Linked DNA regions of Homo sapiens. The protein of the gene in region 1 purifies or fractionates together with the protein of each later gene. This does not show direct contact. Each region holds a gene or a part of one and is shown in the gene's direction. Other genes may lie near its edges.

Evidence for each region. The genes of interacting proteins can lie anywhere in the genome.
Region 2: the proteins of LIN54 (region 1) and GOLGA4 purify together in Homo sapiens (co-immunoprecipitation; one large-scale study listed by IntAct). This does not show direct contact.

The regions. Positions count from the first base shown.
Region 1 is NC_000004.12:82,979,559-82,983,733, reverse strand, and holds part of LIN54 (protein lin-54 homolog), read left to right. Parts: intron 1-4,175. UniProt on the Homo sapiens protein: Component of the DREAM complex, a multiprotein complex that can both act as a transcription activator or repressor depending on the context. In G0 phase, the complex binds to more than 800 promoters and is required for repression of E2F target genes.
Region 2 is NC_000003.12:37,294,934-37,298,770, forward strand, and holds part of GOLGA4 (golgin subfamily A member 4), read left to right. Parts: intron 1-45; coding exon 46-144; intron 145-1,153; coding exon 1,154-1,286; intron 1,287-3,837. UniProt on the Homo sapiens protein: Involved in vesicular trafficking at the Golgi apparatus level. May play a role in delivery of transport vesicles containing GPI-linked proteins from the trans-Golgi network through its interaction with MACF1. Involved in endosome-to-Golgi trafficking.

The DNA.
Region 1 (4,175 bases):
GCCAGTAATAGTGCGTGTCAGCCAGCGTGTGCCTTTTATTTGGAGTTTACTGTTCATTGCCATTATTCATGTTTGTACTATGGAAAAGACAGTGACATGTGATGGAAGATAACATACAGGCTTTAGAGTTGTACCAACTGGGCTTGAGTTGCCTCTATCTTATCCTACCAGTTATGGAAAACTTTCGTAGGTTACTTATCTTCTCTGAGTTTTTGACTTTATCTTAAGAATACTTTTTGATCAAGATGAAATGTGTAGTATAATTCTCAAAATATTGAGGATGTTTCATAATGGTACCTATTATTAGTATGAATAGGACCCTAAGAAAGAAGGTTACTGGAATATATATTAAGTGATTTCCAGTTTATCATGCCCAAATAGGCTTTCTTAGGCCACCACTACTCTTGGAAATGCAGTGATCGGCGGGGCGTGGTGGCTTAAGCCTGTAATCCCACCCAGCACTTTGGCAGGCTGAGGTGGGCGGATCACCTGAGGTCAGGAGTTTGAGACTAGCCTGCCCAACATGGTGAAACCTCATCTCTACTAAAAATACAAAAAATTAGCCAGGCATGGTGGCGAGTGCCTATAATCCCAGCTACTCAGGAGGCTGAGACAGGAGAATCGGTTGAACCCGGGAGGCAGAGGTTGCAGTGAGCCGAGATCGCGCCATTGCACTCCAGCCTGGGTGACAAGAGCGAAACTCCATCTCAAAAAAAAAAAAAAAAACAAGAAATGCAGTGATATACTTATGACCAGGAAACAAAAATGTATCCTCTGTTTGAAAGAGTTGTCTTTGAATGCATAGAAATAATAGGAAATGCATAAGAAGGAAGTAGGAAGGTTTTGGGAGACTACACTCAGCTGATATTAGAGTAATGTTTTGGTTACTGTTTTGACAGTAGAATTAGAAACCACTTTTCATGGGCTTTGCATTTAAGAACTTTGTAGAATTTCTTAAATCTTATAATTTGCCTCTGTCCCCTTTGCCATTATTAAACATTTAGTGCTCTTTCTTGTTCATTATTACTTCTCACTTATCTATGACTTCCTTTTACTTCTTATTTTTGCCAAGAATCTCTTGGATGAGATATCTTATCACCATCAAGCATCTTGTCCTCAGTTTTGAAGCTTGTTTTTATTGGTTTACCAAAGTTTATTTGGCTTTGGCAATATGGATCATAATTATGTTCAAAAGAAACTGATGCCAGGTGTGGTGGCTCACGAACCTGTAAGCCCAACACTTTGGGAGGCCAAGGTGGGCAGATTCTGTGAGGCCAGGAGTTCGAGACCAGCCTGGGCAACATAGTGAAACCCTGTTTCTACCAAAAATACAAAAAATTAGCCCAGCATGGTGGCGCACACTTGCGGTCCCAGGTACTCAGGAGGCTGAGGTGAGAGGGTCGCTTGAGCCGGGGAGGTCTAGGCTGCTGTGAGCTGTGGTCGCATCACTGCACCTCAGCCTGGGCTACAGGAAAACCCTGTCTCAAAAAAATAAAAATAAACTAAAAAAGGAAAAGATATCATAAATTAGAATGTCATTTTTTTCATTTATGAGAGCAAGGTATATGTGACATTTCAATGACCAGTGTTGCTTGTATCTATTATTTCTCTACTTTAACTCCCTAAGTAATGACAATAAAAAAAAGACTGGGGTCTAATTCTTATAACTTGTTTTATTGTTACTTTTCTGTTTTGTTTTGTTTTGTTTTTGAGACAGGTCTCTCTGTCACCCAGTCTGGAGTGCAGTGGGTGCTCCACTGCAGCCTTGACCCCCCAAGCTCAAATGCTCCTCCCACGTCAGCCTCCCAAGTAGCTGGGACTACAGATGCAAACCACCACACCTGGCCAATTTTTGTATTTTTTTTGTAGAGATGGGGCTTTGCCATGTAGCCCAGGCTGGTCTCAAACTCCTGGACACAAGCAATCCACCTGCCTTGGCCTCTCAAAAGTGCTGGGATTACAAGCATAAGCCACTGCACCTGGGCTATTGTTAGTTTTCTAAAGCCTGTTTCTATCTAATAAAAAAGAATTCTATTAAAAAAAACAATAAAAAGGAATTAGATTTAGAATTTTTTTTACTTGTACAATCCATTATTTTTAGGCGACTTAAGTCTTTCCATCTCAGAAGTAACCTCAAAGCTCTGAAGCACAAAAGACAAATTAAAAACTATGCATCTATATTTTTTCCTTTTTTGACACCAGAATATTTGGTTTAGTATTACAAAGAGTATATGATTTTCTGGTTTTTTTCCCCCTAGGTAGTTGTCAGTGTTAAGTTTAGTCAGAGTATTGAGACTGTTAGGGTATAGATAGCAGGCAACGGTGGAAGATGGAGGCCATCTTGAAAAATGAAGAAAAGAGGTGACCTTTGAAGCCAGAGGCAGTAACAGAGGTATAATTATATGTAATAACAGATATATAAACACTTTCCCATGTTTCCTGTGCATAGTATATAAGAGTAGTACATAACTAGCAGTCTGGAACAATATAACTCCTTACTAGCTCCTGAATCTATCCAACACAGTGCCAAAAATTACTTGTATATATTATTTGATGACATATTTTACTACCTTATTTGTAAGTTTTTTTTCATGTTTATCTTAAGCTGCTGATTCTATAAACTTGTTAAAGTAATCTTTGATGCTTTGTTTTACTTAATAATTTTGTTCCAGGATACTTTAGAATTCATAGTGCAAAAAAATCATAGTTCCTTAATGGAACCAAAAGTTATTATTTTCAGCACCACTAAAGAAACATAACCACAAGGGCAAGATGAGATTGTTTATTTGAATAATTAATGTGCTTCTGGTTGTACTGTTTATATTTTTTTCTTACTGATAAGTATTCATATACTCATGATTGTGAAAAATCAGTTTAAAATGGGGAAATACTTTAAGCCCATAATTGTTATAGCTAAGGTTATTTATTGCTAATATGGCTTTCTAAGAATATTAATACTTCTACCTCTAGAGATTGTTAATATTATAGATACAATAGATACAATTTTGACTGACTTTAGGGTTTTAAGTCTGTAAACATACTTGAGAAATTTGTATTTCTCTAAATTTCATTAGCTTTCTAGAGTATAATTATAGATTTATTTGAGTATGTTATAGTTTTGCAAGTCGGCCGTTTTTAAATACAATAATGGGTATGTTTTTTTTTAAGTGATTTGTATTTTATATACAGTTGGTTTTTGTCAGTAATGTGCTCTGAGTATAAAAAAGTAATATATTGTAGGTGTAAGATGTGTTATTTAGTTTAATTTATAATTTGAGCACAAAGAGCTAATATTTGTCTAGTTCTGTGATCTATCATAACTTCCGGTGTATTTCTGTTATTCATGTTGGTCATATTTTTTCATTTGAGTCACTATTTCCTATAATAAATAGTTCTTTTACAGTCTCAATTTTCATTGCCAAAAGATATAATTAATATTTAATGTTCTTCACACTCTAAAATTCTTTGATTTTTATCCCAGGTAAATTTCTTCTTTTAACTTTTAGAAGAAGCTGTGTCTTTGTATATGGTGATAATCGCAATATAAAAAATTGGTAACTCTACACTCCTTGACTTGTGGAGAATTATAATTCAGGTCAACAGTGTGCCAATATGTAACTTCAAATTGGAGATGAATTAAATATAGTTTCTCTCTTCAAGGAATTTAAAATATAATAAACAGTTGCTGTAGCCCAGGAGTTTGAGGCTGCAGTGAACTATGAGTGCACCACTGCACTCCAGTCTGGGTGACGAGATGAGACCCAGTATTTTTTTTTTTTTTTTTTTTTTTTTTTGAGACAGAGTCTCACTCACTCTGTCACCCAGGCTGGAGTGCAGTGGTGCAATCTCGACTCCCTGCAACCTCTGCTCCCGGGTTCAAGCAATTCTCCTGCCTCAGCCTCCCGAGTAGCTAAGATTATAGGTGTGCGCCACCACACCCTGCTTATTTTTGTATTTTTGTAGAGACAGGGTTTCACCATGTTGGCCAGGCTGGTCTTGAACTCCTGACCTCAAGTGTCTGCCTGCTTCAGCCTCCCAGAGTGCTGGGATTACAGGCGTGAGCCACTGCGCCTGGCCAGGACCCCATCTTTAAAAGAAGAAAAGTGTAGTACATAATAGTTTAGTAAATAATATTTCAGAGCTGTTGCCCTTATAATAGTTTCTGTTCTACCAAA
Region 2 (3,837 bases), on another chromosome or scaffold:
TTTGTTTTATACTGAAAATTACCTGTAAATCATTTTATGTTTTAGGAGCTCCAAATGGACCAGCAGGCAAAGAAACATCTGCAAGAGGAGTTTGATGCATCTTTAGAGGAGAAAGATCAGTATATCAGTGTTCTCCAAACTCAGGTAAAAGAGTAAAAGAAAAAGTGTGGAATTTTTTGGATAAAGAAAAATAGAGGGGGTTTGATTTGGATATCTGCAAGGTTGCAAAAGTTTTTTCTTTTTTAAGACCTATTTTTAAAACTTTTTGCTTTCCTCAATTTTTTTTATTTTTAATTTTTTTTGAGACAGAGTCTTGCTCTTTCACCCTGGCTATAGTGCAGTGGCGTGATCATAGCTTAACTGCAATCTCAAATTCCTGGGCTCTAGCAATCCTCCAGCCTCTGCCTCCAGAGTGGCTGGGAATACAGGCATATGCCACCACGCCCAGCTAATTTTTAAATTTTTTGTAGAGATGGGGTCTCACTATGTCGCCCAGGCTGGTCTCAAACCCCTGGGCTCAAGCGATCCTTCCGCCTTGGCCTCCCAAAGTGTTGGGATTATAGGCATGAGCCACCACTCCTAGCTCTTCAGTTAATGTTAAGGATACTTTTTTATTTATTGTATCTTTTGACTAACTGCATAATAATAATAGCAAATATAAAAACCAGCTGTATTGGGAGTAAACTTTTTATTTTGATTATTTTCCCCCACTTTAGTAAGAAGAATATCATTTAATCCGTCCTCTCTCTGTTTTAAATAAAGTACAATAAGCCATCCACATTGATGTGTTTTTGTATGTGTGGATTCAACCAACTGGATCAGAAATATTTAGGGGGTGAAAACCATGTGTAGTGAACATGTAGACTTTTTTTCTTCTCATTATTTTCTAAAATATATGTAGTACAACAACTACTTGCATAGCATTTTCATTATTTAGGTAGTTTATGTAATCTAGGGATGATTTAAATTATACTGGAGGATGTGTGTAGGCTATATGCAAATACTACACCATTTTATATAATGGACTTGAGCTCCTGCGGATTTTGGTATTAACAGGGAATCCTGGAACCAATCCCCCACAGATACCAAGGGACAATTGTACTACTCCCATAGTTTTTTTTGACTTTTTTCTAATGAAGCACATTTATATTAGGTTTCTCTACTGAAACAACGATTACGAAATGGCCCGATGAATGTTGATGTACTGAAACCACTTCCTCAGCTGGAACCACAGGCTGAAGTCTTCACTAAAGAAGAGAATCCAGAAAGTGATGGAGAGCCAGTAGGTAAGCTTCATTTTGTCAAAAGGTTAATTTAAAAACTAGAGGAGAGCCAGGCTCCTTGGCTTACACCTTTAATCCCAACACTTTGGGAGGCCAGTGTGGGAGGATCGCTTGAGTTCAGGAGTTTGAGACCAGCCTGGGCAACATAGAGAAAACCCTTCTCCACAAGAAAAACAAAAACAAAAATGAAACCCCAAGAAAACCTAGAGGAGGATTTTGAGAGATTCCAGGATGTGAGCTGATAGATATGGGCTGAGGTAGAAGTGTCCGTGGTCCTAATAGTTTCAGAAAGATGCAAGGGTTTGTTTTGTTTTTTTGGTTCTTTGTTGTTATTTAGGAGAAAATAAGTGTTTTTTGTTTGCTTGTTAGTTTGAGATGGTGTCTCACTCTATTGCCTAGGCTGGAGTGCAGTAGCATGATCTCGGCTCACTGCAACCTCCATCTCCTGGGTTCAAGCGATTCTCCTGCCTCAGCCTCCCGAGTAGCTGGGATTACAGGCACACACCACCATGCCCGGCTAATTTTTGTATTTTCAGTAGAGACGGGCTTTCACTATGTTGGCCAGGCTGGTCTCGAACTCCTAATCTCAAGTAATCTACCTGCCTCAGCCTCCCAAAGTATTGGGATTACAGGTGTGAGTCACTGTGCCCAACCAAAAAAGTTGTTTTAATATGCAAAAATTTCATAGTCTGTAACACCACATTTTCATTGTAATTGAAATTCATTTATTATGCTACACTGTTTTATTAATAGCAGTAGCTAGATTTCATATGAACAGGTCAGTTCTGCTTACATGCTAATAAGTGGGCTATTTGTAATTGTTTGGATATTTTAGTTTTTAAATATTGCTTAAATAGTTCTATATTCATAGATATTTGTATTTGTCCTATTAATTGCTTTTTAACTGGAAAAAGAAGAAATAGCTATATTTTGTCTTAAAATTCAGTTACAGCCTTCTTTGCTTTGAGGCTTGAGGTATATACGCAATAAAATTCCCGTCTTTTATTTCCTAGCTTTTTCTTTCAAAGGGACTTATGATAAACTTGGAGTAAGTAGTTGAGCAGTTAACTATCTGAGCAACCAGACTATGGTGGGGTGGTGGGGCGGCGGGGCCAGTCCCGAAATTCCCAGACATGTGGAAACTTCAGACTCATAAATGTAAAGAGATGGAGAAAGTTGCACTTACCAGAACTCCTCTCAGAAAGAGATTAGAATGTGGTTGGAAAGAATACCGTACTTTATTAATCCTTTTGGGAGGTGAGCTAAGACACATAATTTTGAATAACAAAAGATGATTATCAAACTGTCATTTTAAGGAGGGTGGATTCAGTTAATGTTAGTTAACTACTGTGCCATTCTGAATGGGGTTGAACCTCAAAGAGGTGAATTACTACTAAGCTTCTTCAGATAAAGATTAAACAACTAATACTAAGTAGAGGTTTGGAAGGGTGCCAGTTTATTAGCTGACTAGGGTTGTCCCTTCTTCATCTAAGAGTATAGCAGAATATTGGTGTAAGAATACACTCCTGGTGGGGCGTGGTGGCTCTCACCTGTAATCCCAACACTTTGGGAGGCTGAAGCAGGCGGATTGCCTGAGGTCAGGAGTTCGAGACTAGTCTGGCCAACATGGTGAAACCCCACCTCTACTAAAAATACAAACAAGTTAGCGAGACGTGGTGGTGTGCGCCTGTAATCCCAGCTACTTGGGAGGTTGAGGCAGGGGAATTGCTTGAACCAGGGAGGTGGAGGTTGCAGTGAGCCGAGATCATGCCACTGCACTCCAGTCTGGGCGGCAAAGCGAGGCTCCGTCTCAAAAAAAAAAAGAGGGAATACACACCTGTGTAGTAACAGACTGTTCCTGGAAGTGTCCTTATATTTGTAACCGCCCAAAGGGTTCACCTTGCCCACTGCCTAGACAGAGCTGATTTATCAAGATAGGGGAATTGCAGTAGAGAAAGAGTAATTCACGCAGAGCCGAGTGTGCACGTGACCAGAGTTTTATTTTACTCAAATCAGTCTCGCCAAGCATTCACGGATCCGAGTTTTTAAGAACAATTTAGTGGGTGGGAGGAAGCCAGTGAGCCAGGAGTGCTGATTGGTCAGGTCAGAGATGATATCATAGGGAATCAAAGCTGTCTTCTTGTGCTGAGTCACTTCCTGGGTGGGAGCCACAAGATCAGATGAGCCAATTTATCGATCTGGGTGTTGCCAGCTGATCCATCAAGTGCAGGGTCTGCAAAATATCTCAAGCAGTGATATTAGGAGCAGTTTAGTGGTGGTCAGAATCTTGTAGCCTTCAGCTGCATGACTCCTAAATGATAATTTCTAATCTTTTGGCTAATTTGTTAGTCCTACAAAGGCAATCTAGTCTCCAGGCAAGAAGGGGGTTTGTTTGGGAAATGGCTTTTATTGTCTTTGTTTTAGACTATAAACTATAAACTAAGTTCTCCCAAAGTTAGTTCAGCCTACACCCAGGAACGAACAATGACAGCTTAAAGGTTAGAACCAAGATGGAGTCGGTTAGATTAGATCTCTTTGACTGTCTCAGTCATAA